Homo sapiens: one gene and its partners. The protein of the gene in region 3 purifies or fractionates together with the protein of the main gene of each other region. This does not show direct contact. Each region holds a gene or a part of one and is shown on either strand. Other genes may lie near its edges. The genes, in order: HNRNPC, BUD31, CCDC12 and CDC40.

What was found.
Region 1: the proteins of CCDC12 (region 3) and HNRNPC purify together in Homo sapiens (co-immunoprecipitation; 2 studies listed by BioGRID and IntAct, with this or other methods). This does not show direct contact.
Region 2: the proteins of CCDC12 (region 3) and BUD31 purify together in Homo sapiens (affinity purification with mass spectrometry; 2 studies listed by BioGRID and IntAct, with this or other methods). This does not show direct contact.
Region 4: the proteins of CCDC12 (region 3) and CDC40 purify together in Homo sapiens (affinity purification with mass spectrometry; 2 studies listed by BioGRID and IntAct, with this or other methods). This does not show direct contact.

The regions. Positions count from the first base shown.
Region 1 is NC_000014.9:21,259,320-21,266,769, forward strand, and holds part of HNRNPC (heterogeneous nuclear ribonucleoproteins C1/C2), read right to left. Parts: exon of another isoform or gene 7,074-7,450; intron 6,230-7,073; exon of another isoform or gene 4,018-6,229; 5' UTR 3,992-4,017; exon of another isoform or gene 3,275-3,991; intron 1-3,274. UniProt on the Homo sapiens protein: Binds pre-mRNA and nucleates the assembly of 40S hnRNP particles. Interacts with poly-U tracts in the 3'-UTR or 5'-UTR of mRNA and modulates the stability and the level of translation of bound mRNA molecules. Single HNRNPC tetramers bind 230-240 nucleotides.
Region 2 is NC_000007.14:99,411,882-99,419,331, reverse strand, and holds part of BUD31 (protein BUD31 homolog), read right to left. Parts: intron 7,388-7,450; exon of another isoform or gene 7,349-7,387; intron 7,144-7,348; exon of another isoform or gene 7,037-7,143; intron 5,355-7,036; exon of another isoform or gene 5,254-5,354; intron 3,195-5,253; coding exon 3,072-3,194; intron 2,594-3,071; exon of another isoform or gene 1,904-2,593; coding exon 1,737-1,903; coding exon of another isoform or gene 1,683-1,736; exon of another isoform or gene 171-1,682; coding exon of another isoform or gene 159-170; exon of another isoform or gene 1-158. UniProt on the Homo sapiens protein: Involved in the pre-mRNA splicing process. May play a role as regulator of AR transcriptional activity; may increase AR transcriptional activity.
Region 3 is NC_000003.12:46,924,592-46,932,041, forward strand, and holds part of CCDC12 (coiled-coil domain-containing protein 12), read right to left. Parts: intron 945-7,450; coding exon 865-944; intron 1-864.
Region 4 is NC_000006.12:110,225,386-110,232,835, forward strand, and holds the end of CDC40 (pre-mRNA-processing factor 17), read left to right. Parts: intron 1-781; coding exon 782-858; intron 859-3,446; coding exon 3,447-3,591; intron 3,592-4,568; coding exon 4,569-4,746; 3' UTR 4,747-6,847; downstream 6,848-7,450. UniProt on the Homo sapiens protein: Required for pre-mRNA splicing as component of the activated spliceosome. Plays an important role in embryonic brain development; this function does not require proline isomerization.

The DNA of each region.
Region 1 (7,450 bases), on a different chromosome or scaffold from region 3:
TTTTCCTTCATCGATCCTTACTGTGAAAAGTGCCATTTACTTTGTTTCTTCCCTCAATGATCTATAATATCTAAGAGGGCAGGGGACATGTTTTGTTCATCCCTATATGCCCAAACCTAATGATTTTCAAATAGTACTCAGATACTTAATAAAACATCTTATACTTGAATGTTCCTTGAATACCTCCAAGATGTTTAAAATATTCTTTTTCCCACCCTCAAACTATAATCTGCTCCCTTCATTCATTCCCCAATATCTATCCCTATCCCAGAAGCTAGAAACCAGCAATCATGCCAAATCTGTGTTCTTGTCCACCTTATCACATCCATCCTGAGATGCTCCTAATTTTACCTCCTAATCTCTAATCTCATAGCATTACCTTTGTCCAAGCCAGGTCGTTATTCTTTCTTGGATTTTAATATCTCCTTTATTAATCTCCTACTTCCAATCTCATTTCCTCTACACCATTTCCATACTGTTATTAGAAAGACATTCCTAAAAATTAAAATCTTCCAGGAGTTTTTGAGACCAGCCTGGGAAACAAAATGAGACCTGTCTCCACCAAAAAAAAAAAAAAACAATAAAAAATAGTCAGGTGGGCCGGGCGCGGTGGCTCACGCCTGTAATCCCAGCACTTTGGGAGGCCGAGGCGGGCGGATCACGAGGTCAGGAGATCGAGACCATCCCGGCTAAAACGGTGAAACCCCGTCTCTACTAAACATACAAAAAAATTAGCCGGGCGTAGTGGCGGGCGCCTGTAGTCCCAGCTACTTGGGAGGCTGAGGCAGGAGAATGGCGTGAACCTGGGAGGCAGAGCTTGCAGTGAGCCGAGATCGTGCCACTGCACTCCAGCCTGGGCAACAGAACAAGACTCCATCTCAAAAAAAAAAAAAAAAAATTAGCCGGGCATAGTAGCAGGTGCCTGTAATCCCAGGTACTCGGGAGGCTGAGACAGAGAACTGCTTGAAACCAGGAGGCAGAGGTTGTGGTGAGCCAAGATCACACCACTGCACTCCAGTCTAGGTGACAGAGCGAGACTCCGTCTTATTTAAAAAAAAAAAAAAAAAAAAATCCCTTTATGTGATTAAGGTAGAAGGAATAAATTTATAAATTTAAAGTTATAAATAAAAATAATAAAAAAAGGATTCCCTGACCTCTCAGGGTTAGTTAGGTAACCATTTCTGCATGCTTTCTTTTTTTAAAAAGAGATGGGGTCTCGCTGGGTGCGGCAGCTCACACCTGTGATCCCAAAACTTCAGGAGGCTGAGGCGGGTGGATCACCTGAGGTCAGGAACTTGAGACCATCCTGGCCAACATGGCATCTCTACTGAACCCTGTCTCTACTAAAAATAGAAAAATTTAAGGCCAGGTGCAGTGGCTCATGCCTGTAATTCCAGCACTTTGGGAGGCCGAGGCGGGCAGACCATGAGATCAGGAGTTTGAGACCAGCCTGGCCAACATGGTGAAACCTCGTCACTACTAAAAATACAGAAATTAGCCGTGCATGGTGGTCCGTGCCTGTAGTCTCAGCTACTCGGGAGGCTGAGGCAGGAGAATCGCTTGAACCCGGGAGGTGGAGGTTGCAGTGACCCAAGATGGCACCACTGCACTCCAGCCTGGGAAACAGAGCGAGACTGTCTCAAAAAAAAAAAAAAAAAAAAAGATGGGGTCTCATTATGTTGCCCAGCCTGGAGTGCAGTGGATAATCACATCACACACTACAGTCTCTCAAATCCTGGGCCAAGGGACCCTCCTGCCTCAGCCTTCCAATTAGTTGTGACTACAGGCTTACAGGCAGGTACCAACGCCCCCAGCTTATTTTGGCATGCTTCTATAGGATATGTGTTTACCTCTCATCATATATGGACATTATTTCATTCATGTGTCTCCCTCACTAAGCTGCGAAGCCCTTAAACATAATAAACTATTTTTTATATCCCCAAACACAACATGTCCCATAAAAATAATAAATTTGTAGAATTAACAAGGAATAAATCAAACTGAACCTATAGTGAACAGCTTCCGTACACTGACAGCAGCAAAGAAGAAAAAATAGCTCTCATACAATAGAGAGCATCAATAAAACTTGCACTTATTTAAAAAATAAAGATTCCCATTCTTTTTCTAGATAACTTCCAGGAATCTTTTGCTTTTTCTCCCATTCTGTTTTGAGTGTACCTCTGGTGTTCACTTTAACTAGATTTCACTTTTCATCCGAGTATGGTATAAGGGGGCAAGTTTGTGATTTACCCTAGTACAACAGTACCGAATATGCCTTCAAAAAATTATTCCAGGTTAGGTGCAGTGGCTCATGCCTGTAATGTCAACACTTTGGGGGTGTCAAGGCAGGAGGATCGCTTGAGCCCAGGAGTTCAAGACCAGCCTAGACAACATAGCGAGACCCTGTCTCTACAAAAAATAGAAATATTTTAAAATAAAATCTAATTATCTCCCAGCTTGAAACCTATCAGAGCAACTCTAAAATGGTTATCAAAACATTTTGCTGCAGTGAGTAAAATACTACGGGTTGCTCAACTTCTCTTTGGCTATCCACATCTTTACTAATCTCTACACCATTCCTGTGAATAACACAGAATACACTCCTTCTTAACATCAGAACACATTAGAGTTCCTAATCTAGCATTAGAACTCTATGAATTCACATTAGAATTCCCAAAATCTAGCTGGGTCTTGAGTCACCACTGTAAAAGGGGTCAGCCTTAGACAGTTCCTAATTTGGATGTAGAGGTTAAACAGATTTCCCTGCTTTGTGAGGTCAAAAAGCCTACCTTTTTTCAAATTTTTAAAAGCCCTCCAGTGAGACAGCATTTTAATATTATGTTGTATCTCCTATGGTTTGACTCTTGTGAAATATTAATGAGATAAAAAGTCTAAATAGAATATAATCCAAAAATGTCACAAACCCAAGGAATATGTTAAATGACAGAAAATGTTTACTGATTTGTAACAATCTAAAAAAAGGGACTCCCCAATATGTTTTCTTGTTGCTAATCATTAAAACAAGCCACTTTCATTTTAAACTTCAGCTGCTCTTTCCAAGTATCCAAAATGTTCTAATCAGCCCAAGTTAATTAGCAACTCATATTATTCCATTAGTTTACAAATAACTGAGGTGGTCCCCCTTGGGAAACACCTCAAGATGCACACACAAAAGTTTCAAACACTTCCAGATGCTATGACCTATACACATCAGCTAAACTGTTAAACGGGTTTATTTCCTAGTCTTTGTAATGAATCCAAGTGGACCTCACACCTCTTACCATCACCCAGGAAGGGTGTGCATCTGTTCCGAAGGCCCCCCTGGCTCCAGGTCATCCTGGCTGCTGCTGCTCCAGGCTGGGCATCCATGTTGCTGCAGCTTGTGGTTTGTGAGGGGTAGTGTACAGGAAAAGCAGGATGGGATTTCAAGGGAAACAGGAGGAAGATGGCTTTCAGGGAAAATGCCATCACGATCATAAGTGTTAAGTAGTACCACACACATTTTATTGCAGCACAGTTTAAAAATTTAACAAATGAAAGATTAAAAATAAAAAAACAAAAATAAAAAAAATTAAAAATACAGACGTCCAGAGATGCTCTAAAACAGTTAAGTTAAAGATCAGGAAAAATAAGGTCATAGACTTAACAGCCAGTAAAATTCTTTTCAGTGTGGGGAAGGGGATGAGGGCAAGGGTGGGGTTGGGAGAGAAAAGGTTTACGTGATCAAACCACTTAAAAATACTAATGCCTTCGCTTTCTCTCCCAAGATGCAAAACTCCAAAGTCAATCAGGAGGCCGGAGAAATTCTTAGAAACATTCAGAAAAACTCGATTTTAATCCGGTTAAAAATCATCAGTGTCATTATCATCATCATCATCACCATCATAAGTATTAATATAATAATAATAAGTAATAGTAACTAGTAACAACAATAAAAAGGAAATCAGCGGAAAGTCAGGAAAAATGTTAAAAAAAAATTGGAATAACTTACTGTAGCTGAAGATCAAAAAAATCTCACTGTAAAAAAACAAAAATAAAAATAGCCCAGATTAGAAAAACGGGAGGTGCAAAAATGTCAAGTCAGTAAAGTTCATTTCTTTTCTCTTTCCAAAAGCAGTTTCCACAAAAACCGCAAGGATAAAGTTTTCAGTAGCAGACAAGCAAAGCCCTTTCCACATCATCAATCAATCTTAAAAATACACGAGGAAGTAGAGAGGTCAGTTTATGAGAGGCTAAAAGGCTCCTCCTCCTCTAACCCAACTGCTGCAGAAAAAATAGAAATAGAAATTTTAAAAATTACATCTTAAATCCAGGTCCCGGTTTTGGAAACAATTAAAAAAAAAACACCTGTACATTTGCTGTAGTGCACACCAAGTTGCATCATTATGTTTAAAATGTCTTTATAAAATCAGTTTTGGAATGGAATGTGTGTGTTCTGGAAGGGTGGGGAAGGGAGGTTAAAAATCAAAGCTGAGCTCCAGTGAGTAGGGATGGGGTTCGCCTTGCTGCCCTGTGAAAGGAGAAGGGACAGATTGAGTCAGAGTTCCTCAGAAATGTTGTGCCCTAAACCCCCAAGACAGAAACATCTGTCTACTGCAGCTAACACATTTTGGTAAAGCATTAACATTCCACTGGGATGGGATAGCCTCCATAGAATCACCTCTACCAGTGACTGTCTTCACAATTCTTCAACATCAATAGATGACTAAAATTAACTAAATTCATGTCAATATGCCCTTGAGGGTCTCAAAAAGAGTATATCCCAAATGTTCATCTTGATAATGAGCAGTTTGGGCAAAGAAAATACAGAAAAACCGGGCCAACAAATAGAGATGAAATAGTGAGCAAATGTCAAATACTGAGATTATAAAACCTAAGCAGATTCATGGGTTTTAAACTTAAAAAAGTCCGTGGAGTTTTTGCTATGAGTAATAGACTGAAGGTGAATGGCCTACCATGAAGATCTATACTAGAGATGACTCATCTATTCTCAAAACCAGTGAGTGATCAAACCACAAGACCTAATAGGTTCTACTGTTAGGGGAAAAGATGTTTTAAATAAGGAGCACATTATTCCACTCACTGACAAAACGAAAATACAGATGGAATTAAAAAAATACTGAATATTTAAGGTCATAAAATAGGTGAAAAAAATTAAGGTCCTTATGTTAATACTTTTGTTTCTGTAGTCCACTATTTACTATGTAGCGTGTAAAGCTAATTTCAAGTTATGGATTCTAAAAATCTGGTACATAATACCACACTAAAATAATTTCCATGACAAACTGGTTGTTTCATCAGCTAAAATAGGAACTGCAATTAGACTGTAGTTCCTTGTGCAAACAATGAACTAGCTGCACTCACTGTTCAATTTAGCCATGAGGTCTTATTCTCCTTTGTAAATTTGAGGAAATTAAAATATTTTAAGGCCAAGTGTGGTGGCTCACACCTGTAATCCCAACACTTTGGGAGGCCAGGGTAGAGCACGGCTTGAGCTCAGTAGTTTGAGACCAGCCTGGGAAACATGACGAGACTTTATTAAAAACAAAAAACATTAGCAGGGTGTGGTAGCCTGAAATCCCAGCTACTTAGCAGTCTGAGGAGCGAGGATCACTTGAGCCCAGGAGTTCGAGGCTGCAGTGAGCTCTGATCACGCCACTGCACTTCAGCCAGGCCAGAGAGAGACCCTGTCTCAAAAAAAAAATTTTTAATTGAGCTTTTAGAAGTGTTCCTTGAGCCAACTATACATGAATGACTACAGCAGCAACAAGTACCATACATTTTTAAAAAGAACAGTGTAGGAATGACAGTTAATTTTTACATTTGATGTGTGAAAACTGTATGAATGTACAAATTGCGGAAAAAGTTTGTGAAGAATTGTAAGAAATATACATCTGAATGTTCTTTTCCTGTTTATGAAATACAGTTATGGTGAAACATTTCATTTTCTTATTTGGAGCCACAGCCCAAACCTGGTAATCAATTTTCAAGATACATAACTTTATAGCTCAACCACAACCAAGTCCTTTGTACAGGTGCCACAAGACATAAGCTTAAAAATAAAGAAAAATGTGAAAAGAAACCAATTCTATCTTTCAATATCAAAAAGCTCAGTATCTCCCAAGATGTTATTTATGTTAAACTGAAGAGCTACCACTCATAAAAAGACCAACTTTAGCACCATTTTCAATCAAGAATATTCCTTGAGGCCAGGCGGCGTGGCTCACACCTGTAATCCCAGCACTCTGGGAGGCTTGGGGCGGGTGGATCACCTGAGCTCAGGAATTCAAGGCCAGCCTGGCAACATGGCGAAACCCTGCCTCTACCAAAAATACAAAAAATTAGCAGCACTACTCAGCAGGCTGAGGGCACCCCTTGAGCCCGGGAGGCAGAGGGTGCAGTGAGCTGAGATGACACTACTGCACTCTAATCTGGGTGACAGTGTGAGGCTCTCAAAGAAAAAAAGTATCCTTACCTAAAGCTCAGAGATAGTTTTAGAAAAAAAGTATCTCTAGGTTATTCTTTGTCAAAACCTGCCTGAGGTTTGGATCCCTTCTTCTAAAGGGGCACCTCTCAGAATGAGTGATGCATGAGCATCATCACCTGGAACTTACTAGAAGTGCAAACTCTCAGGGCCCACCCCAGACTTACTTAATTAGAAACCCTTGTGGTAGAGATCATAGCAATCTGTTTTAACTAGCCCTATTGATTCTGGTGTTGGCTAACGTTTGAGAACCACTGTGAAGATTTTAAATTGGGAATCTCTCTATTCCCCAGTTTAGAATCAATTATTATCATTTTTTTGAGATGGGGTCTCACTCTGTCGCCCAGGCTGGAGTGCAGTGGTGCGATGGCTCACTGCAACCTCCACCTCCCAGGTTCAAGCGATTCTCCTGCCTCAGCCTCCCGAGTAGCTGGGACTACAGGCGAGCGCCAGCACGCCAAGCTAATTTTATTTTCAGTAGAGATGGGGGTTTCACCATGTTGGCCAGGCTGGTCTCAAACTCCTGACCTCGTGATCCACCCGCCTCAGCCTCCCAAAGTGCTGGGATTACAGGCATGAGCAGCCACACCCGGCCTTAGAATCAATTCTTTAAACAAAATGCCTGACCTTCCAGTGTACTGTGACAGAATCAAGTTAGAGCACCAAATAATGTTTTCCTGATACAATATAAATAAATCCAAAAACACATAACCTATGATAGTAAATGTACCAAAGAAACCTTTTTTCCTTTTATGTTAATAAACTCAAAATTTCCAATATCGAGAATACCTGTAGTTATGCTACACCTCAAAGTTCTGGTTCTCACCAATCCTCTAGTAAATCTAGTATGCACAAAACCAAAACCTTCCCATTTCCAATGAGAATACATGAATATGCATATTAAGAGCAAATAATGCTCCCCAGAGACAACTACTAATAAAGTACTTGAAGACTGAAATAATGTGG
Region 2 (7,450 bases), on a different chromosome or scaffold from region 3:
ACATATGTGGCAACCCTCCCACGAAGGACCTGCCACCATGCCATATAGGGACACACCTCAGAAACCCTTCCTTGACAGCTCTGGACAGGGAAAATTTGGCTCCCTCATGAAGGTAGAACCAGCTGCTGTTGACACCGAGGTTACATCTGTATGTCTATTTATAATATGTTCTGCAAATCCAACACACGTTTGCCAATCAAGAAAAAGAAATCGGTGTGAATGAGTCTCGTTATTCTGCTAAGTGAGCATGACAGACCCTGCGATGAGCAGACGTGGCTCTGCTACTGTTTGGGGACTTCAGGGGGGCCTCTGGGCTGGTACACTCTGGTGGGGGAAGAGGGCAGGAGACTATGCACTTGAGTCACACCCTTCTGGCCCAGAGCCCCCCAGAAAGAAGGGTCTTGTCCCCCAGGCCTGGTGCGGCCCAACACTTGGCCAGCCAGAAAGCCCTAGAACAGTGGCTTGTGTTTATTTTACTTTTTCAAGTTCTTTTTTTGGAAGAACAAGACCATAGTTTAAGTAAACAGGATCCTCTGGTGAAACCCAGGTAAGTCTACAGCGGGCTGTTTTGGCCACAGGGCTGAAGCAGCACCCCAGCCCACCAGCCCCTGACCTGGACTCCTTGTGGAATCTGGGCACTCAGAGGAAGGGGGCTTCTGCCACTCTGCCACCTGTCCCTGCCTCCATCAGAAAACCAACACCCCAGTCTTCCGTCGGGGAGGCGGCCCTTGCTCGCCCCCACTGCTCAGTACCCAAGTCCTCAGCATCCAGCCACAGCTCTCCATTGTCAGTCTCACTGCAGCATAAAGGGGACTCATGTGAAGAGGCCCCTGTGTGGAGCTGGGGAAAAGAAGGCCAGGCTGGCAGATGGGCGGTGGGGCCAACAACTGTGCTGAGGGGCTGCACTGAGCGGCCACTGCTGTGACTCTGCCTCGGGCCACAGCTGCCTTTCAGAGGGGCTTGGAACCGGATGGAGCTCAGCTCCTGTCCCTCAGCACCACTCCTGAGGCGCCTGGCCTAGGAGTGGTACTTGGAACAGAAAGTTCTGAAAGAAGAAACACAGTGGGCTGGGCGCAGTAGCTCATGCCTGTAATCCCGGCACTTTGGGAGGCTGAGGCGGGTGGATCACCTGAGGTCGGGAGTTCGAGACCAGCCTGAGCAACATTGAGAAACCCCGTCTCTACTAAAAATACAAAATTAGCCAGGCGTGGTGGTGCATGCCTGTAGTCCCAGCTACTCAGGAGGATGAGGCAGGAGAACCGCTTGAACCCGGGAGGTGGAGGTTGCAGTGAGCCAAGATGGCATCACTGCACTCCAGCCTGGGCGACAAAGCAAGACTCCGTCTTGGGGGGGCGGGAAAGATAGTGATGGTAATGTTAAAGTATCACTGTGAGGACTGAAAGGGACAGGAACTCACTGGTTGTCCTTCCCTGATGTCACCCTGCCACCACCTTGGGATTAGGGCTCCCCACCACCATTTCCTAAGTGAGGAAAGGGGTTCAGTAATTTGCCCAAAAGTGGAGTTGAGATTGACCCCAGACCTAACAAACACACAGCCACACGCTGCCTCACATGGATTCCTGAATACAGGGACCCACTCCCACGAGGGAGAGCCAGCAGGACATCCAGGGACAAAACGACATTCCAGCCCAACCAAATAACATAAGATCCCTTGCAGTCGACTAAGGCAGAATTTTGAGCTGAAAACAACACCAAGCTTGAGTGTCAGACATTACCACTTCCAGCTTGCTTTTGGGCACGCGGCAGATGCAGTTCGTCCCGAAGTTGGTGTCCCGTGTCTGAATGCACCGCAGGCAGCACAAGTTCTCATATCCTTGCTTTTTCCATTTTGCAATCAGGTTTTTGTCTGCATAGCCTTCTTTAATACAATATTCATAGAGTTCTGTCAAAAAGATGGGGAAAGAGCATCAGGCCATGGTCTAAAAACCTTCCCCACCCTTGATCAAAAAAAGCATTCAGGCCGGGTGCAGTGGCTCACACCTGTAATCCCAGCACTTTGGGAGGCCGAGGCAGGCGGATCACCTGAGGTCAGGAGTTCAGGACCAGCCCGGCCAACATGGTAAAACCCCGTCTCTACTAAAAATACAAAAATTACTCGGGCGTGGTAGCAGCTGTAATCCCAGCTACTTAGGAGGCTGAGGCAGGAGAATCACTTGAACCCAGGAGGCGGAGGTTGTAGTGACCTGAGGTCGTGCCACTGGACTCCAGCCTGGGTGACAGCGAAACTCCATCTCAAAAAAAAAAAGGCATTCAGTATTGCAACGGGACAGTCCTTGGAGGAGGAACAAAAAAAAAAAGTACTTAGGCCAGGCAAGGTGCCTCACACCTGTAATCCCAGCACTTTTGGAAGCCAACGCCAGAGGATCATTTGAGTTAAGAAACCAGCCTGGGCCAAGGGCCCATCTCCACAAAAAATTTAAAAATTAGCTGGGTGTGGTGGTGCACACCTGTAGTCACAGCTACTCAGGAGGTTGAGGTGAGAGGATCCCTTGAGCCCAGAAGGTTGAGGCTGCAGTGAGCCATCATTGCACCACTGCACTCCAGCCTGTGGAACAGAGCAAGACCCTGTTTCAAAAAAAAAAAAAAAAAAAAAGCCAAGAGCGGTGGACCACGCCTATAATTCCAGCACTTTGGGAGACCGAGTCGGGTGAATCACCTGAGGTCAGGAGTTCAAGATCAGCCTGACCAATATGGTGAAACCCCATCTTTACTAAAAATACAAAAATTGGCCAGGTGTGGTGGCAGGTGCCTGTAATCCCAGCTACTTGGGAGCTGAGACAGGAGAATCGCTTGAACCCAGGAAGTGGAGCTTGCAGTGAGCCAAGATTGCGCCACTGCACTCCAGCCTGGGTGACAGAGTGAGACTCCATCTCAAAACAAACAAACAAAAAACAAACACACACACAAAACTCAGCCAACGTTGGCTCCCCCTAATTTTCGTGGTAAGAAAAACCATGACTTGCACAGGTTGCGAGAATAAGGATTGTGGTTAGTTCAGTAACTCCAAAAGTGACGCGAGCTTCAAAGTCCAAGAGAGACTGACTAATTACCTCTGCTGATGGCTTTCCGCTTGTAAAAGAGGTCGAAGATGTAGCGGGTTTTCTGGTGGTGGATCCTGAAGATGGGCCACAGAGATTCCACTTTCCTCTTTCCCTCATGCGGTTCTGTTTCAGCTGGGGAGAAACAAAGAGTGTGTTTGGGGGAATAGGGTCGGTCTGCGCAGGATTTTCTTTTTGTAAGTAACTACTGATAATGAATAAATACCACTTTATACCCACTAGGATGGCTGTGGGTGGCAAGCCACCCAGGTGCCGAGGCAAGAAACCGAGGGCACGAGCTGTTCTAGTATAATAAAATAAATAAAATAAGAATAGTTATACTAGATATAGATCTTAGATATGATTATATATGAATATCATTAATCCTTAGTTTGTAGCAATTACTCTTTATTCCAATATTATAATAATCCTCACTCGACAATCATAACCTAGGAAACACCAGGCTATACAGAGATGGGAGCTGAGGGGACATAGTGAGAACTGACCAGAAAACGAGTGCAAGCCTTCTGTTATGCCCGGACAGGGCCACCAGAGGGCTCCTTGGTCTAGCGGTAACGCCAGCATCTGGGAAGATGCCCGTTGCCAAGCGGACCTTGGTCTAGCAGTAGCGTTAGTGTCAAGGAAAAACACCCGCTACTTAGCAGACCGGGAAAGGGAATCTCCCTTTCCCCGGGGGAGTTTAGAGAAGACTCTACTCCTCCACCTCTTGTGGAGGGCCTGACATCAGTCAGGCCCGCCCGCAGTTATCCAGAGGCCTAACTATCTCCCTGTGATGCTGTGCTTTGGTGGTCACGCTCCTAGTCCGCCTTCATGTTCCATCCTGTACACCTGGCTCTGCCTTTTAGATAACAATAGCAAATTAGTGAAAGTACTAAAAGTCTCTGATAAGCAGAAATAATGGCATAAGCTGTCTCTCTCTCTCTGCCTTGGTGCCAGGCAGGCAAGGGCCCGCTTTCCAGTGGACACGTGACCCATGTGGCCTTACCTATCATTGGAGATGGTTCACACTGCTTATCCTGCCCCTTTGTCTTGTATCCAATAAATATCAGTGCAGCCTGGCATTTGGGGCCACTACCGGTCTCCGCGTCTTGGTGGGATTCCCAGGCTCAGCTGTCTTTTATCTCTTTGTCTTGTGTCTTTATTTCTACGCTCTCTCGTCTCCACACACGGGGAGAAACCCACCGACCCTGTGGGGCTGGACCCTACAGATGACTATAATCAAAATTATGGCACAATAACAAGTGTTGGGAAGGATGTGGAGAAATTGGAACTCTCCTACGTTCCTGGTGGGAATGTAAAATGGTGGAGCCACTGCAGAAGAGTTAGGTGGCTCCTCAAGAAGTTAAACAGGGCTGGCCGGAATCGGTGGCTCACACCTGTAATCCCAGCACTTTGGGAGGCTGAGGTGGGCAGGTCACTTGAGGTCAGGAGTCTGAGACCAGCTTGGTCAACATGGTGAAACCCCATCTCTACTAAAAATACAAAAGAATTAGCAGGGCATGGTGGCGCATGCCTGTAATCCCACCTACTTGGGAGGCTGAGGTGGGAGAATCGTTTGAACCCAGAGGCGGAGGATGCAGTGAGCTGAGATCACACCACTGCACTCCAGCCTAGGCAACAAAGCAAGACTCCCGTCTCAAAAAAAGAAAAAAAAGGGAATGAAGTAAGTACTGATATATTCTACAACACAGATGAACCTTGAAACATCAAACTAACTGTGGCAATGGTCGTACAACTTTGTGAATATACTAAAAACCCCTTAATTGGATAATTTAACAGGTTCACTTTTACAGTATATGATTAATATCTCAATAAAGCTGTTATTTAAAAACAGAATAAGCCGCCGGGCATTTTGGGAGGCCAAGGTGGGCGGACCACGAGGTCAGGAGATCGAGATCAGCCTGACCAACGTGGTGAAACCCCATCACTACTAAAAATTAAAAAATTAGCCGGGCGTGGTAGTGCACGCTTGTAATCCCAGCTTCTCAAGAGGCTGAGGCAGGAGAATTGCCTGAACTCGGGAGGTACAGGTTGCAGTGAGCCAAGATCGCACCACTGCACTCCAGCGTGGGCAACAGTGTGAGATTCCGTCTCAAAAAAAAAAATAAAAAAATAAAAAATAAGCTAAGTAATTTAAACATAATTGTTTTAAATTAAAAATGTCTATTTTTGGATCCTTTTGTAATTCATGAGTGTGCTTGGGTGTTCACATCCATGTGTGAGACATGCCACTCTCAAACCTTGTCACAACGTTGGCACATTACCCATGTGACAAGAAAAAAAGTCTTTTTAATTACAGAATTAGAAAACATAGATTTTTAAAGACATTTAATGGTAACTTCTGTTAAAAGGTTGGTCCCGGCTGGGCACAGTGGCTCACGCCTGTAATCCCAGCACTTTTGGAGGCCGAGGTGGGTGGATCACTTGAGGTCAGGAGTTCGAGAACACCCTGGCCAACAGGGCAAAACACTGTCTCTACTGAAAATACAAAAATTATCTGGGCATGGTGGCACATGCCTGTAATCCCAGTTACTCGGGAGGCTGAGGCACGAGAAGTGCTTGAACCTGGGAAGCAGAGGTTGCAGTTAGCTGACATTGTGCCACTGCACTCCAGCCTGGATGACAGATGACCCTGTCTCAAAAAAAAACAAAACAAAACAAACAAAAAAAAGCCAAAAAACCAACCTTGGTCCCTATGCTTTCAGATCTATTTCTACAGCGTAATAATTAATCAAGATAATTCTAGGCCCACAGATGGGCATCCTAATCATCTTGAAGGCACTTCTAATTTCATCTCCCAGCCAAAGTCCTTTAGGGCTGAGGAAAAGCTAAATAAACTAGACCAGTCTACAGGTTCTGAGGGAAGTAGCCACAGCAGAAGCTGCTCCTTCAACACACGCAGGATCAGGTGGCACTCATACTTGCCGCAAGGCAGTTCTCTCTCTCTCAGCAGTCACAAGTTCATCTTTGTCTATGACCTCCTCAGTTTTTAGGGAAGAACAGAAGGGCGAAGAGTGGTCAAGAAGACTATCCCTCCCTGTCTCCAGCTTTTAAGCCATTCTATTACCTAGGAATTACAATTCAGCTCAACAAACAGAATGCTGTGATCCAAGCAGAAAAGCAGGTAGTAAAGATTCAGCAGGTACACATGTTAAGACGTGACTTGCTCCTCCTTGGCCTCTGCCATGATGGTGAGGCCTCTCCAACCACATGGAACGGTAAGTCCATTAGATCTCGTTCTTTCGTAAATTGCCCAGTCTCAGGTATGTCTATCAGTAGCGTGAAAATGGACTAACACACCCCCATCTCTACAAAAAATTAGCCAAGCGTTGGTCGGGCGCGGTGGCTCATGCTTGTAATCCTAGCACTTTGGGAGCCTGAGGCGGGTGGATCACAAGGTCAGGCGATCGAGACCATCCTGGCTAACATGGTGAAACCCCGTCTCTACTAAAAATACAAAAAAAAAAAAAAAATTAGCTGGGCATGGTGGCGGGCGCCTGTAGTCCCAGCTACTCCAGAGGCTGAGGCAGGAGAATGGTGTGGACCTGGGAGGCGGAGCTTGCAGTGAGCGGAGATCGCGCCACTGCACTCCAGCCTGGGTGACAGAGCGAGACTCCGTCTCAAAAAAAAAAAAAAGAAAAAAAAGAAAAGAAAACTTAGCCAAGCGTGGCAGTGGATGCCTGTAGTCCCAGCTGCCTGGGAGACTGAGGTGGGAGGAACACCTGAGCCTGGGAGGTGGAGGCTTCAGTGAGCTGTGATTGAACCACTGCACTCCAGCCTGGGCAACAAAGTGAGACCTTGTCTCAAAACAAAAACAAAAAGAAAACAGAACAAAGAATACTTCTGTCTGGAGGTAAAGAATATCTAAACACAAAGTAGGGTTCCTCCTTCCCTCAAAAGTCACCCTTTAGAAGATGAAGTTAATTTACTTTCAAGGACTTGCAAAATCTCTTCTATTCCAGCATGCTCCCATTTCCTTTATTTTGATAAAGAGCTGTTTCGGGAAGACATCTCTCAGCCCAAAATGACCGTGATTACTGCAATAGGCCCATCCAAATCTAAACTGCAAAACAAGTACTGAGTATTTAATAGAAGTTATCTGGTACGAACAGTTTTTTTAAAAAGGGGCAAAGTAATTTAACATTGATTTAATTTAGTAATTACTGCTGGAGGTACGACCTCATAATAACCATGATTAGGTTAGTTACAAGCAAGCATTTCAAAAGCTACTTTAAAAAGTAACTTCAGCTGGGTGTAGTGGCTCATACCTGTAATCCCATCACTTTGGGAGGCCGAGGTGGGTGGATCACTTGAGGCCAGGAGTTCGAGACCAGCCTGGCCAACATGGAGAAACCCATCTCTACTAAAAA
Region 3 (7,450 bases):
CCCAGCACTTTGGGACGCCAAGGCGGGTGGATCACTTGAGGTCAGGAGGAGTTCAAGACCAGCCTGGCCGACATGGTGAAACCCTGTCTCTACTAAAAACACAAAAATTAGCCAGGCGCAGTGGCACACACCTGTAATCCCAGCTACTCAGGAGGCTGAGGTTACAGTGAGCTGAGATTATGCCACTGCACTCCAGCCTAGGCGACAGAGCGAGACTCCATCTCAAAATAAAATAAAATAAAATAAAATAAATAACAAACATAAAGAATTAAAATGGGGACCCTCCAGGGCAAGGGCCCAGGGATCCGCAGGACTAAGAAACTTCCTGGCATGAGTGGTGTGGACGGCCAGAAGCTCCTGGTGGCTGTGCTGTTCCCACGCCATGGCAAGAGTCTAGGCAAGCCCTGGGCCAGGCCCTCTCCCCTGCCTCAGTGCTCCACACTGCCCGTCCACTGCTGTGTGTGGCTGAATGACTGGCCCCTGTCTCTGACCCACCCAGGGCCCACAGGACCCATCACCCTGCCCTGCTGCCCAAGGGCCCCATGACCACATCCACTTCTCAGCCAGGAGTCCTCTGAGAGGATGTGGCCTTTTTCAAACCCCACTCAGATCCCTGGGAGGCCTCGGTCTCAGGGTGTGAGCAGGACTGAGAAGGCACAAGAGGACTCTTCAGTGCCCCGACAGCCTCTGCTGCTGCCGAAGGCCGACTGTGTGCATCTGCCATGAGATGGTAACAAAGGGTCCTGCCTGCAGGCCCAACTCCTGTCCTGGTACTGCTGGTTATTCTCAGAGAGCAAAGCCTGCTGAGGTGGAGGGTGGCTGACAGTGCCAGGAAGCAGAGGTGGAGAGGGACAGCTTGCTTACCTGCAACCGGTTTGGCCTGGGGCACCCTCCTCTTCTTCAGGTCCTCATCCTCCGGGACATAGTTCCGCAGCCTAAGTTCCCTGCAAGAATAGAGGGAACAAGCAGAGATGAAGTCAGTGTGTGACATGGTCTCATTCATTCATTCATACAATTTGCATAGCCCGTGAATTCCTGAATTTCCTCTGCACTCTCTGGAGATAGCCTGGTAAGGAGGAGAAGCACAGAATGGAGTGTCATCAGGCAGGCCCCTTGGCACCGTCCCCTGCCACTTAGCGGGACTGGCTGCCCTCCAGAGGCCCTGTCTACTCTGTTGGAGTACGGTTCTCTTCCAGAGCTGGGCCAAGGACGCCTAGGGAGCATTCACAGGGTGTCTCTCCTGGATCATCCCATTTGACAGATAAGGGGACTGGAGGTCAGAGAGACTGTACCCTTTTCATAGGATCACACAGCAGTGGCTGCACATCTTAGCTCAAGGCAATGTATAACTCCCAGCCAGGGCTAAAGCTCCTAGGCTGAGTGATTCCCAAAAGAGAAGGCCAGTGGTCACCCACAAATTCCCCAAGTCTGGCCCCTCTTCAGAGCCTTCCTGCCCTGGGGCTCATGCCATGGAATACGCCTCAACTACTTAGAGAAAAGCATCTGGGTGTGCTGGGCCAGGGGCATGTGGCAGTGAGGAGTGACATGTGGACAGAGAAGCAGGTGCTGGAGGGCTCCAGAGGGGCGTGGCTGCCTACAGCTGTGGGAATGTGGAGGGGAGACACTCCAGGAGGAGGTGGCGCCTGGGCCTGCAATGACGCGGACAGGGTCAAGGCACAAAGCACACGAGAGGCTGACTCAGCTCCAAGACTGTTGAGAGTGGCCAGTGAGGGCTGTGAAAATAGGCATGACCATGTGCAAGGCTGGGAAGGCCACAGTCCACCAGGACAGCAGTGAGAACTGAACAGCCCCAAAGGCCTCCATGAAGAGAGAGGAGCCACAAGGGGCCAGAATCTCCCGGCAGGAGCTGCGGCTAGCTACTATGTTTTTATGTTCTTCCTGCCTCAGTCTTTTCAGGCAGGGGTGGCTGAACCAAGAACTCACTGGGGTCCTCTCTGGCTCAGGGGCTCATCAAATCCTAGCCCCACACACACAGAAGCAGGCTCCCAGGAAAATGTGTCCCTGGTAACTCCACAGGGCGGCAGGGCGAGAGGTCCTGGGGGCTGCAGGGTCTAAGAAAGGCAAGGCAGAGGCAGTGGGACAGACCCCTAGCCCCAGGGGATGCAGGAGTGGCCCCTCAGATGCTGGCCAGGTGAGACTAGGCCGCAGGTCCTCCTCCTTCCCCAGTACCTCTTTCGGTTCTTGACCAGTGGTCCCTCAGAAAAGTCCTGGGCCTCTAAGGCAGGAAACAATTTCCCAACAGGCCTCCCACAGTCTGCCATCTCCCAAGCCCTCTGTCTGGACCAGGTAAAAGTGCTGCTGACTTCCTCAGGCCCTGCAAAAGCAAGCTTTCCCAGAGGCAGGGGTGTCTGTGGCTACACAGCTAGCAAGCGGCAGTGCTTTGGACTCAGGGGCTTTCAGATGCTATTCACTCTCCTATTTAAGGGCTCCACCTGCTTCCTGCCCCCAGCTTACTTACCATCTCCTTCCTTCCTGCCAGGGCCCCTGAGCCTGGAGCCTTGGGGCTGGGCTGAACCACTGCGGGCGATGGGGCAGTACCAGCATAGCCTGTGTGGAGGAAGCCCACCTGCACTCCCAGAAGGCCCAGAGATACCCCACCCCGTCCCCCATCCTTGAACACCTGCCTCGGGCCTGGAGGTACATGTCAGGTCACAGAGGTACAGGGAGACAAAGTGGGGCATGACTGGGTGCAAAGGCTTTCGTTCACAACAGGGTGGGGAGAAATGAGGAAGAGAAACTGGGTGTGGGAAGAAAACTGCAGGGATTAGTAAGAAAAAAAACTGTCGCTTTCAGAAACGGTCTCCAGGGTTCTGTGAGAAATCAGAAGGAGAGAGGAGAGGCCACAGGGAACTGTACCCAGAACTCACAGCAGCAACACGCACCCATGCCTCCAGACCCACCCACTGCCCGAGGCTTCAGAAGGCCAACTGGAGGAGTGAACCAGAAGCAAGAGGCGGGAGCAGAGCCTTGCGCCCACTGTGCCCTGCCACCCCCAGAGCGGAGCACTGGCCAAGCAGCCAAGAACATCTAGATCCCGACCACCATGGGAAGGTCTCATTCTGGGCCTCAGTTTCCACATTTAGAAACATTACGGCTGTGCTGGGTGCATCCAGCTCTATCAAGCTGGGTCCACGCCCTCCCCAGACTCACTCTTGGAGGGTTAATCTGATGTGCAGCCACTGTTGTGTGATCGCGTGAAAATGGTGCAGTCTCTGACCTCCAGTCCCCTTAGCGTGGAGAGCTAAGAGACTTCCCCTCCCTAATGCCCACTTAACTGCCCACCCCCGGAATTCCACCACTACCAAAGGACAGGAGTCTCTGGGAGAGGTCAAGGAGCATGGGGGGGTTCAGCTTGGGGACCTGGCCTTTCCAACACAGGCCCAAGATTTAACCTCCCTTATAAAAGCAGGTGGATCACTTTAGGTCAGGAGTTTGAGCCCAGCCTGGCCAACAGGGCGAAACCCGGTCTCTACTAAAAATACAAAAATTAGGTGGGTATGGTGCCACATGCCTGTAATCTCAGCTATTCAGGAGGCTGAAGCAGGAGAATCGCTTGAACTGAGGAGGCAGAGGTTGCAGTGAGCTGAGATCGCACCACTGCACTCCAGCCTAGGCTGCAGACTGTCTCAAAAAAAAAAAATGTATATATATGTATTTTAAATGGCTTTAGAGAAGTACCAAGACAGCAAGGATTTCAGGGGCTGCAATCATGGAGATAAGGGAAGTACAACAAAGTGAGCCTGACATCACGTCCCTCTTTCCCCTTAAAGCATGTCTATTTACATGCAGCAGCTGAAAAGCTGAGAGACTGAGCAGAGCTTCCCATTAGGTTGATGCAAAAATAACTGTGGTTTTTGCCATTGAACATAGTGGCAGAAACCACAATTACTTTTGCACCAACCTCATATAATCTCATGGGCCTGGAGAGAAAAAAAAAAGTGTGTTTAAGCAGAAACTAAAACAGACTACTGACTTCTCAACTGCAACTATGGAAACCATAAGACCATGAAATGGTATCTCAGAAGTGTGGACAAAATAAATGTCACACAAAATTCTAAATCTAGTTAAGAAGCCTTCAAGAGAAAGACTTTTTCAGACAAAGAAAGGTTAGGAGAATCAGTTATCAGTGAATCCGTTATTCAAGAAATACTAAAAGGAATACTTTAGGCTAGAGGAAAATGATCTCAGACGGAAACATGGAATTGCAGGGAAAAAATAAAATGCCTCAGAAAGGGTAAATACAATGGCTTGTGTCTGTAATCCCAGCTACTTCGGAGGCTAAGGCAAGAGGATTGCTTGAGCCAGGCGTTCAAGGCTGCAGAGAGCTATGATCACACTCTGCACTCCAGCCTAGGTGACAAAGCAAGACCCTGTCTCAAAAAAAAAGCAGGGGGAAAAGAGAATTTAAATGAATATTGACTGTATAAAAGAGTAATAACAACTTATAGTATTTAAAATATAGCAACAATAGTGTAAAAGGCAGAGTGGCAAATAGCCTTAAAGTGTTCTAAGGTCCTAAGCACTGTAGAGGAAATGGTAAAAATACTACTATTTTCTATTAGACTTTGATAAGTTAAGGATGTATGTTGTTATGCCTGTGGAAATCACTAAAAGAAAGGGAAAACAGCATACAATTAACAAGTTAACAGAGGAAGAAAGTGGAATAATTAAAAACAAAAAAATCCAAAAGGAGACAAGAATGGAGATAAAAAAGGAAAGTCAAGAAACAAATAGTAGGACAACAGGTTCACACACAAAGCAGGTCCAGGCTGCTATCCTAGGAGCTCCCATAGCCTTACAGTGTCCGGGGCCACCACAGCTCTTGGAGACTGGGCAGGGTGTGACGAGATGGTGCCAGCCAGAGCAGTAGGGCAGGCCAACACCTAACACCTTGTCAGCTGGCCAGGAAATACTGAAGCAGCCTGCACTCACCAGCAGTCACTGGCATCTGGAAGCCACCTTTCTGAGGACAACTGGAGCCAAACAATGGTTCTGCCACCCCCATTTTAGAATGAGGAAGTTGCTAAGGGGAGAAGGTACTAGCTCTAGCTAAAAGAAAAGAAATAAAAACAACAAAAATGTTGACAGTGGTTATCTCTAGGACTGACTTTTTTTCAAGAGATGGGGGTCTTGGCTGGGCATGGTGGCTCACACCTGTAATTCCAACACTTTGGGAGGCCGAGGCGGGTGGATCACCTGAGGTCAGGAGTTCAAGAACAGTCTGGCCAACCAACATGGTGAAACCCCATCTCTACTAAAAAAACAAAAATTAGCCAGATGTGGTGGCGGGTGCCTGTAATCCCAGCTACTCAGGAGGCTGAGGCAGGAGAATCACTTGAACCTGGGAGGCAGAGGTTGCAGTGAGCCGAGATGGTGCCACTGCACTCCAGCCTGGGCGAGAACAGCAAGACCCCATCTCAAAAAAAAAAAAAAAAAAAAAAAAAAGAGATGGGGGTCTCCCTATGTTGCTCAGGCTGGACTTGATCTCCTGGGCTTAAGCAATCCTCCTGTCTCAGCCTCCTGAATAGCTGGGACTACAGGCATGAGCCACCATGTCCAGCTCTGAGTGATTTTTACTTGCTTCTCTGATTTTCTGTAGTTTCCGGAATTTCTAATCAGTATTCTTCCTACACAGAAACAACCAACGAAGTACTCAAAAACATAAAGAGGAAACAGGCAGAGGGGCCATAAGGCAGCAGAAGACTGTGGCAGGGTTCTGAGTCAGGCAGCACCAGCACCTCAGCTCTGCTGGTGGCCAGTCTCTGTGGCTTAGGGCCAGGCTGTCCCCTAGCCAAAGGGAAGCAGAGACCAAGCCATGCTTTTTTGGGGCTTTCTGCCCCCAGAGTCTATGGGAAGGAGGGCAGCCCAGAAAGCCCAATGGCTTCTAAGACACTATCCTTTGCACCAAATGCCCTAGGCCACCCAAAGTCCACCCTATACCGGCAGCCAGTGTCTGGGTGGAGCTTTGCTGTCTCTCCACAGGAGCAGACACATCAGCCACCTCAGTGCCTCCACTGGCCCTCCCTCTGACTCAGGGACCCCAGTGTCCCCAAAACAAGTCTAAGCTTCTTCACGTGGTCCTGGCCCCACAGCCTGCTCACCCCCTCAGCTACACACTTCCCCGTCCATCACGCTTAAAGAGCCAGCTCCAGGAGGTGGCCCTGTGGGCCCCTCCCAGTGTCCCTACTCACCCTGAGGCACAGTAACCGCCCTTCTCCTGGGCCCCCTTTGCCCCACTTGCCTCTCTACCCTCTCCACAGCAGGCCCCACTCCATGCACGTGGCCCTGTGTCGGCTGCATGTCTGTCTTTCACAGCCTGCCCTAAATGCACCAGGCAGCTCCAGGAGGGGCTCAGCATACATTGCCTCAAGCTGGATAAAGGAATTCAGAAGGCACTCAAGAAAGAGCTTTATGGGTAGCCTGGGGCTCTCTGAGCCTTTCAATGACTTGAGAAGACATTTGGAAGCAAAGAAGTTGTGCCCAGCAGAGAGGGCAGGAATGTGGCTGGGCCGGGGCAGCCAACCCCTAAGCAACTTCTTTGTGGCAAAGCAACAGGGAATGCCAAGTTTGCATTCCATAGAGTTTCCTTCTAAAATGGGTAGCTGACCTTTTCTATTTACTTTACTCTGCTTCAGGCCAGCTGCAGGAGCCCGGGACATGGGCTGGCCAGGGAGGTTCAGGGGAAATCACCCCTAGGGTGCTTTTTCACATGTGCCAATGAGAGGAAGCAGGTGGAGAAAGTTGATGTTCTCTGTCAAGTATAGAACCAGAGTAGAGTTCTAGAATGGCGAAATGAAAGGAAGCTTTGAGATTATGAATCTGATCCAACCCCATCACTGGCAAACTGGCCTCAAAGCCTACACTGCTCATGGGGGTTTCATGGCCCCTGGTCCACTTCACTCACTCATGCTACCAGGCTTATCCTTTGGGGCGCTAGCCTCCCTTCTCATCCCTTATATCTTGAGGCTACTCCACATTCACCTGCTGCCCTGGGCCCCTGGAGGGAGGCAGAGAGGATAAGGACAGGACAGTCCCACATGGCCTGTTCCCTGAGAACAAGGTCCTCCACCTGGCCACCCTGGTCCCTCCTGGCCATACAGGCCCCATCAAGGGCCAGAGAGAGAACTGCTGTGAGGCACTCCTCCTAGTAACAGACCACAGGGAAGGCCACGCCCAGGATGCGCCTGCAGGCCTTGCAGAGGCCACCACTGACCAGAGAGACTGGCAACTTTGATCAAAGAACACTTTCATTTTTAATATTCAGAGTACAGAGACACTGGAGCTCTGCCAGGAAAACACACTCATGACACTCAGACATGCCCCTAATAATCCTCTGTTTGCTTTAGGCTCTGCACATAGAGACCTACCCCTTGTCCCCAATATAAATAACAAGGCTTCAGTTGCTGCTGCCAGAGGCCAGACTCGACAG
Region 4 (7,450 bases), on a different chromosome or scaffold from region 3:
GATGGTTCTAAATTTAGGTGGCTACTTTTTAATTTTTTTTTCATTCTTTCATCACTCACATGAGGTTTTTTTTTTTTTTTTATGTTTTTTCTCCTTCACCAAACACATTTGAAATGCTTTACATGTAAACTGAAGATAGTCCAGGTACCAAGCATTTATTTATCATCATTTATCATCATTTCTGGATGGGCTAGATCAGCTCACAGATCCCTACAGCTTTGCCTGCCATCCACCTGCATTGCTGCAGGCTGTTTAACACTCTCACCTCCTCAAGTTAAGGTAGGCTAGCCAGTAAATAACACTTCCCCATAGGCTTACCTCAGACATCTTGCTTCACCCTACCATGGTACATTTTTAATTTAATTTTTGGTTTTATTTCAACAGCTTTTGGAGTAAAAGTGGGTTTTGGTTACATGGATGAATTATATAGTGGTGAATTCTGAGATTTTAGTGTATCCATCACCATGGTACATTATTAAAGAACTTTCTTTCAGTAACAGATTTTTTAACATAAAGGCCAAAGTTTAAATGAAATAGAAAACAAAATCACCACCACTGTTATAATGATCATGGAAAGTGATTTATGAAGTACAGGATTTACCATAAGCAGTACAGTGTCATCTTGTGATTTTTCTTCTTCCAGAAAGTTTCATGAAAGATTTATTAAATATATAATATCAAGAGTTTGCTTTTATTTGCATATTATTCCTTTGTTCCAGAGATAATTCTGAAGGTACTTTTTAAAAGTTGCTTATTCTGATATGCTATTTAAAATTTTTAGGGATATCCCTGTGGATTTCAAGTACATAGCAGAACCCAGTATGCACTCAATGCCTGCAGTGACTTTGTCTCCAAATGGTGAGTTAGTATGTAGATTGTATTTTTAAATGAGCTTCTAAGATACAGTGTGATTTCTTTATTCAAAAGAACTTTGGCCCCTTCCTTCTTGGGGAAGTTTGTCACTGTGCCATTATTTGTATAAGGTAATCTTTACAATATTAGAAAGAATTACTGGTTTTCATATGCAAGTCACCTCACCTACTTTTCTGTGTCTCTTTTTAAATAAAAATAAAAGAAACAATGATTTACAGCTAACATTGATTGAACATCAGATTTTTATTTAACAATCAGTTTTCTTTTCTTTTTTCTTTTCCCCTCCTCTCCCCTCCTCTCCTCTCCCCTCCCCTCTTTTCTTTTCTTTTCTTCTTTTCGAGACAGGGTCTCCCTTTGTTGCCCAGGCTAGTCTCAAACTCCTGGGCTCAAGTGATCTTCCCTCCTCAGCCTCCCAAGGTGCTGGGATTACAGGCCTAAGCCACTATGCCCGGCCAGAGTTTTCTTTTCTAATTCTCCTTCCAAACAGAATCACGTTCAGTAAATCATTTAATAATGATTTGGCCAAGGCAGAAGAATCACTTGAACCCAAGAGTTTGAGACTAGCCTGGGCAACATAGAGAGACCTCATCTCTACAAAATAAAATTTTAAAAATCAGCTGGCATGGTGGTGCACATTTGTAGCCCTAGCTACTTGGTCAGGCTGAGATGGGCAGTTTGGTTGAGCCAGGAGATTGACTATGATCATGTGACTGTACTCCAGCCTGGGCAACAGAGCAAGACCCTTCTCTCTAAAAAAAAAAATAGTAATAGTGATTTACTGTAAACTCTTTCAGGGGATAGGAAGTTTTGGTCTGATTCTCCATAATGAGAGAACACTTTAGCAATTCACTATAAAAGATTTTCTCAGGCAAAAATTAAGAAGATAAATCTATTTAATATTGTTTAATCCATTGTCTTTTACGTACAAGATAATTTGTGCTACAGATATACTGACAATATACTGATGTAATTATAGCTTTACATGAGAGTCTTAAAGTGGGAGTTCTGATGTTTGGGGGACCTTGTCATTGAAACCACTGTCAATTCACATAATTAACTCCAAGTGTAGGGCAAGGAAGAATTTGCTGTTCCATCAGGGCCTCTGACACAAGCAAATGGTAATAGTTGTCAAATGCTCTATCATTTTTATGAGAAGAGAAACCTAACTGAACCTTTTTTTGATCATTGCTAGATTATATACTTCGTCACTGTGCATCTATATTTCATGTAGCGTATTTTTAAACCACCTATTACAGATTTTGTGCCCATCTTGAACAAGGCCATTTACCCACTCAGGCATTATTTAAGTCTGTTTCCTTAGTAAGTAATGTTTACATGTACAGTTGGCCCTTTGTATCCATGAGCACCATATCCTGGGATTCAACCAGCACGAATCCAGAATATTCAACAAAATAAACAATAAAAAATAACAATACAACAATTAAAAACAACACAGCATAACAACTAGGTACAAAGCATTTACGTTGCATTAGGCATTATAAGTAATCGAGAGGTGATTTAATGTATACAGGAGATATGTAGGTTATATGCAAATACTATGCCATTTTATATAAGGGACTTGAGCATCTGTGAATTTTGGTATTGGGTAGGGGTGCAGATCCTGGAACCAATTCCCAACAGATACCAAGGGATGACTATATATAGGATGCAAGTATAGTCATGCATTCCTAACAACAAGGGTACTTCTGAGAAATGCAGTGTTAGGTGATTTTGTCATTTTGTGAACATCACACAGAGTACTTACACAAACCTAGATGGTATAGTCTACTTACCCTAGGCTGTATGGTATAGCCTGTTGCTCCTAGGCTTTACCCCTGTATGGCATGTTGCTGTTCTGAATAATGTAGTCAGTGGTAAGCATTTGTGTATCTAAACATAGAAAAGGTACAGTAAAATCTCAGCATAGAAAAGGTACAGTTAAAATTTAGCACTATAATCTTATGGGACCACTGTCATACGTGCGGTCCATCATTGACCAAAACATTGTTAAGTGGTGCATGACTATAGACGCTGCAGTTTAGGCTCTAGGGGCTTTGATGAATCCTAAGTAGAGAAAAGCATTGTAGCCTTTTAAAAAGTTACTATAATTTTTAATATATCTTTTTTTGTATAGTTTTATTTAATAACCCTAGGCTTTCTCACCCCTTAATCTTTCTTTATTCTGTAATTACCACAGATAAGTCTCTTTCTCCTATTTCCCATAGTTCTGTTGTCTATACTTACTATAAATTAATTTCATTTCACAACTTTTAGCTTATTTCTTTAACATTAAGCTTGGAATTTCTATATTTCCTTATTTTTTTAAAAACTTTTATATGAGAGTGCTCAATGATATAGGATCGTATATGCAAAAGCCATTAGTTTATATATTAATACCTCTTGCCAGTGACATATTTATAACATTTTACAGGTGGTATAGTAAATTTATTTTTTAGTATTATAAAGTATTTGGGAGCAAAACTTATATTAATCACAGTGAACATATTTAAAATAAAAAGTTTTAAAAATTGTTTTAGTCTTCCTCTAAAATACCTCATTTATTGAATTTACAGGAAAATGGCTAGCATGCCAATCAATGGACAACCAAATCTTAATTTTTGGAGCACAGAACAGATTTAGATTAAATAAGAAAAAAATTTTTAAGGGCCATATGGTAGCAGGCTATGCTTGTCAGGTGGACTTTTCACCAGACATGAGGTAAGTTTAAATCTTCTAATCCATTCTCGTATTCAAATATGATTATATAAACTGTTGTTGTACAAATAACACTTGACACATCACTCTCACATAATATGTTTTTATGAGAACTCGATGATCTGTCAAAATTGTCAAAATGCTGGATATAAAGGCAAGAACAAATTAGGAAAATTACATTTTGCTTTTTTTAGGTTCTTGCTTCAGTATATTCCCTTCTATTACTTAGGCTTATGCCCTTTAGCCACCTAATAAATCCCTGTCTATATAACCAATGCCTTATTTTCTCTGCTTTTCTAAGCAAGACTAGAAGTGCTATAATCACTGTATTGCTATGATTGAATGAACACCAGAAGAATTAATTGTGTATTACAGTGTTGCAGTTACAGCTTCACTACAGCTTGTCTGTGCTGAAACCTCAAATCCAGCTTTTGAATATTTCTAGGTCACACTGGATTTGTGAAGCCTACAGCATGGTTCTTAGTTAAAATGTATAGGCAGAAGTAATTTAGAAATCCCAGTAACTTTGTTTGTTTAGCCTAGTAATTGGGCCTACCTCTGATTCAGTCTTAGATGTATTCAAAAGATATTAAAGCCAAAAAGTAATTATGAAAGTGTTAGAGCCTACTGTGATAGAATAGATCTAAAGGTGTTCCCTAGCTATATGTGGAATTGGTTCTCCAGTCTCTGTTTCTGACTATCTAGAGACTGATTGTGTAACCTCATTCACTGTGGCTCCTGGGACTCCCAGTCTTCCCAGTTAAAAATAATTTTCTACTCTTAGATTGGTTGGGAGGTTTTTTTAATAGAATTTCAAATTATAGACTGCTTCATGTTCTACCATCTTATTCTGAGTATTGTATATTTGCATTGGATTTTTTTTTTAATGTTAACGTGAAAAGATAACGTCCCTATTCCTCATTCGCCTTACCAATTTAAGGTATTTTAATAATTTGAATTTATCTTTCTTCCCATTATAGTTATGTGATTTCAGGAGATGGAAATGGAAAATTAAACATTTGGGACTGGAAGACCACAAAACTCTACAGTCGATTTAAAGCTCATGATAAAGTGTGTATAGGTGCAGTGTGGCATCCTCATGAAACTTCTAAGGTCATAACATGTGGTTGGGATGGTCTCATTAAATTGTGGGATTAATGAGATTAATCCTTAAACTAGCTGGGATCATTTTTGATCCATTGTCATATTTATATTTAATTATTAAATGTATCTGATGATAACTTGATTTACAGATAATGTTGATGACATTGACCCTTTGTTTAAAAAAAGAAACTGTAAATTTGACATAATTTCATTTGCAACTTCATTTTGTTTTTTATAAATGTTATTTATACAGAAAGTGGCTATTGACTTTCTATTTGACAAGTAGTTATAATTGGCAAGCAGTTTGAGTTTATACTCATGACATACTGAAAGCATCTCTTTGGGGTCAAGAAAGAATCCCTAGTGGATTTGGGATTCTAGAGGAGGTGTTATAATTAATTATTCAGAAAAATGCATGTATTTACCTCTTCAACCAAAAGGGCAGTAAAGAATAGGGATAATATATTTTAATGTAAATTTGGAAGAAGGATAAAATCACCCACAGTTACTCTCCCTATTATTTTCACTGGGTCAAGTTTTAATCTTTTGGCTTCATGAGTTCCACTCCCTTTGATGATATATGTTGTATATTTTTAGTTGTAAAGCAGTAATCTTTAACTGTAGCATTCCTCTAATTATAAACAGTGAAAAATCAAAATCAGTCCAGAGTTCTTTTGTTGACTTAATTCCTGATCAGTATAGACAGGACTATATATATTTAATCAGAGAATTACATTATATCTGAAGATGGAGCTCAGGAGAATGCACCAAGACTTTGAATTGTATTTACATTCACTGTCAGTAAAGACCTGGCTACGCTTTGAGAAATCAGGATCTCCTAGGTCATTGCTTCGCAGCTGTGATTACTGAAATCCTCCTCATAGGAGATAAAGTACGAGGGGTAGAGTCCAAGATGTCAACTTGTAATTTCTTTGAAGTCATATGTTTTATCTTTAAAATTATTCTTATTTTACCTGTGAATATATACAACAGAACTTTTTAAGATTAAAAAATTTTTAAACCTCTATGTCTGAAAAAAAAAATGACACTCCTGGAAGATGGCTAGGGTTCCCCAGTTTGAGAAGCAGTGGCCATGGTGAAAAATAGTTTTTGAAAACATCAGATTATAAAATCAAGATAGTCCGGACGCGGTGGCACATGCCTGTAATCCCAGCACTTTGGGAGGCTGAGGCAGGTGAATCACCTGAGGTCAGGAGTTCAAGACCAGCCTGGCCAACATAGTGAAACCCCGTCTCTACTAAAAACACAAAAATTAGCCAGGCTTGGTGGCTGGCGCCTGTAATTCCAGCTACTCAGAAGGCTGAGGCAGGGAGAATTGCTTGAACCCAGGAGTGGAGGTTGCAGTGAGCTGAGATCATGCCACTGCACTCCAGCCTGGGCGACAGAGCGAGACTCCACCTCAAAAAATAAAATCAAGATAACCTCTTGAATGTAATAGCTCATAGCACTTTAATTTGGCAAGCCATTTTTCCTGTTTTATTATAAATCTATATTAGATGTTTGAATATGGTTTGAAATATTTCACTACCGTGCTGAAAAAGGTTGGTTGATAGCAGCTTGGAGTGCTAACTGGAAGATCAAAATCATGTCTCTTGCTGATAACCTAAGAGCATTAAGCTCTGAGTCCAGTGAGGTCATAGCAGTGTATGCTCCTTGCCCTTACGGAGTGTCTGTTTTTAGAAATTTAGATTTTAAAAGGCGTGGGACATACGACCAGGCCCTATAGCCACATAAATATAAATTTCATAGAAAAAGAATAAAAGCGGAGATATATTTTTTGACACAGAGGCACCCAAAGAAATACAAACATTGCCTAGCTGCTGCCATTTCTGTAACTGCCCAGAAGGGTGACAGATTTCTGAAGGGGAAAGGATTCAGATATGACCTTTTCTTTAGTCCCAACCACTAGTTTTAACAAATGTGAATTATTGAAATGTGAAGGGACAAAAAGAATCATACATTTAAACTGTCTTGTTCAGCATACCAATATTGTATGTTACAAATCATCATTTCTAAATCTGGATTGATTCTGTTGTGTTTTTGACTGTTTCTAAAGTAAGTGTGTATAAAAGTCTCCTTTTTAAAAAGATCATATTTTTAAATAAAGCATTTTTTGTAGAAAGTGCTATCAAAATGTTCATCTTGTTCATCTTTAGTCTCCTTTTGAGTCTTAAGTGTATTGAGACACTAGATTAAGCCATTTGCAGTTTTAAATGGGTCATATGGAGAGAAATAATGCTTTAGAGGTGGATGTGGTTTATTCAGGTATATCAGTGGGTTTATAATTATATAATAAAATACATGGCAGTACCCTCAGAGCACATTAACACATTCCATATTCATTTAGTGGTGGCACTAAGTCATGACTACACAACATTTTAGAGTACATAAATGAGTGGGGTTATATTTCAGCATAAAAAGTCTCAAGATCACATTGTTACTGGACTTAGGTGGTTACCATCTGGCTCCTTTTCCTTATTGCAGCCTTTTTGTCATATCCAGGACAGATTTCCTTCCTAAAAGTTACGATAAAAGTGATGCTTTAGTGAAATATTTACTGGAATGAATATTTAAATATTGAGTCACAAGCTGGAAATATTTTGTCCTAAACAAGGAACAAATTTTAAGATTAAAAAACGGGAGTAGTGTTACACAGCCACATTTCTAAGTAGTTCTTGAGGCTACATTGTGGGGCTGCCTGGTATCCTTGGTATATTTATAAAATACCTGTAAGAAA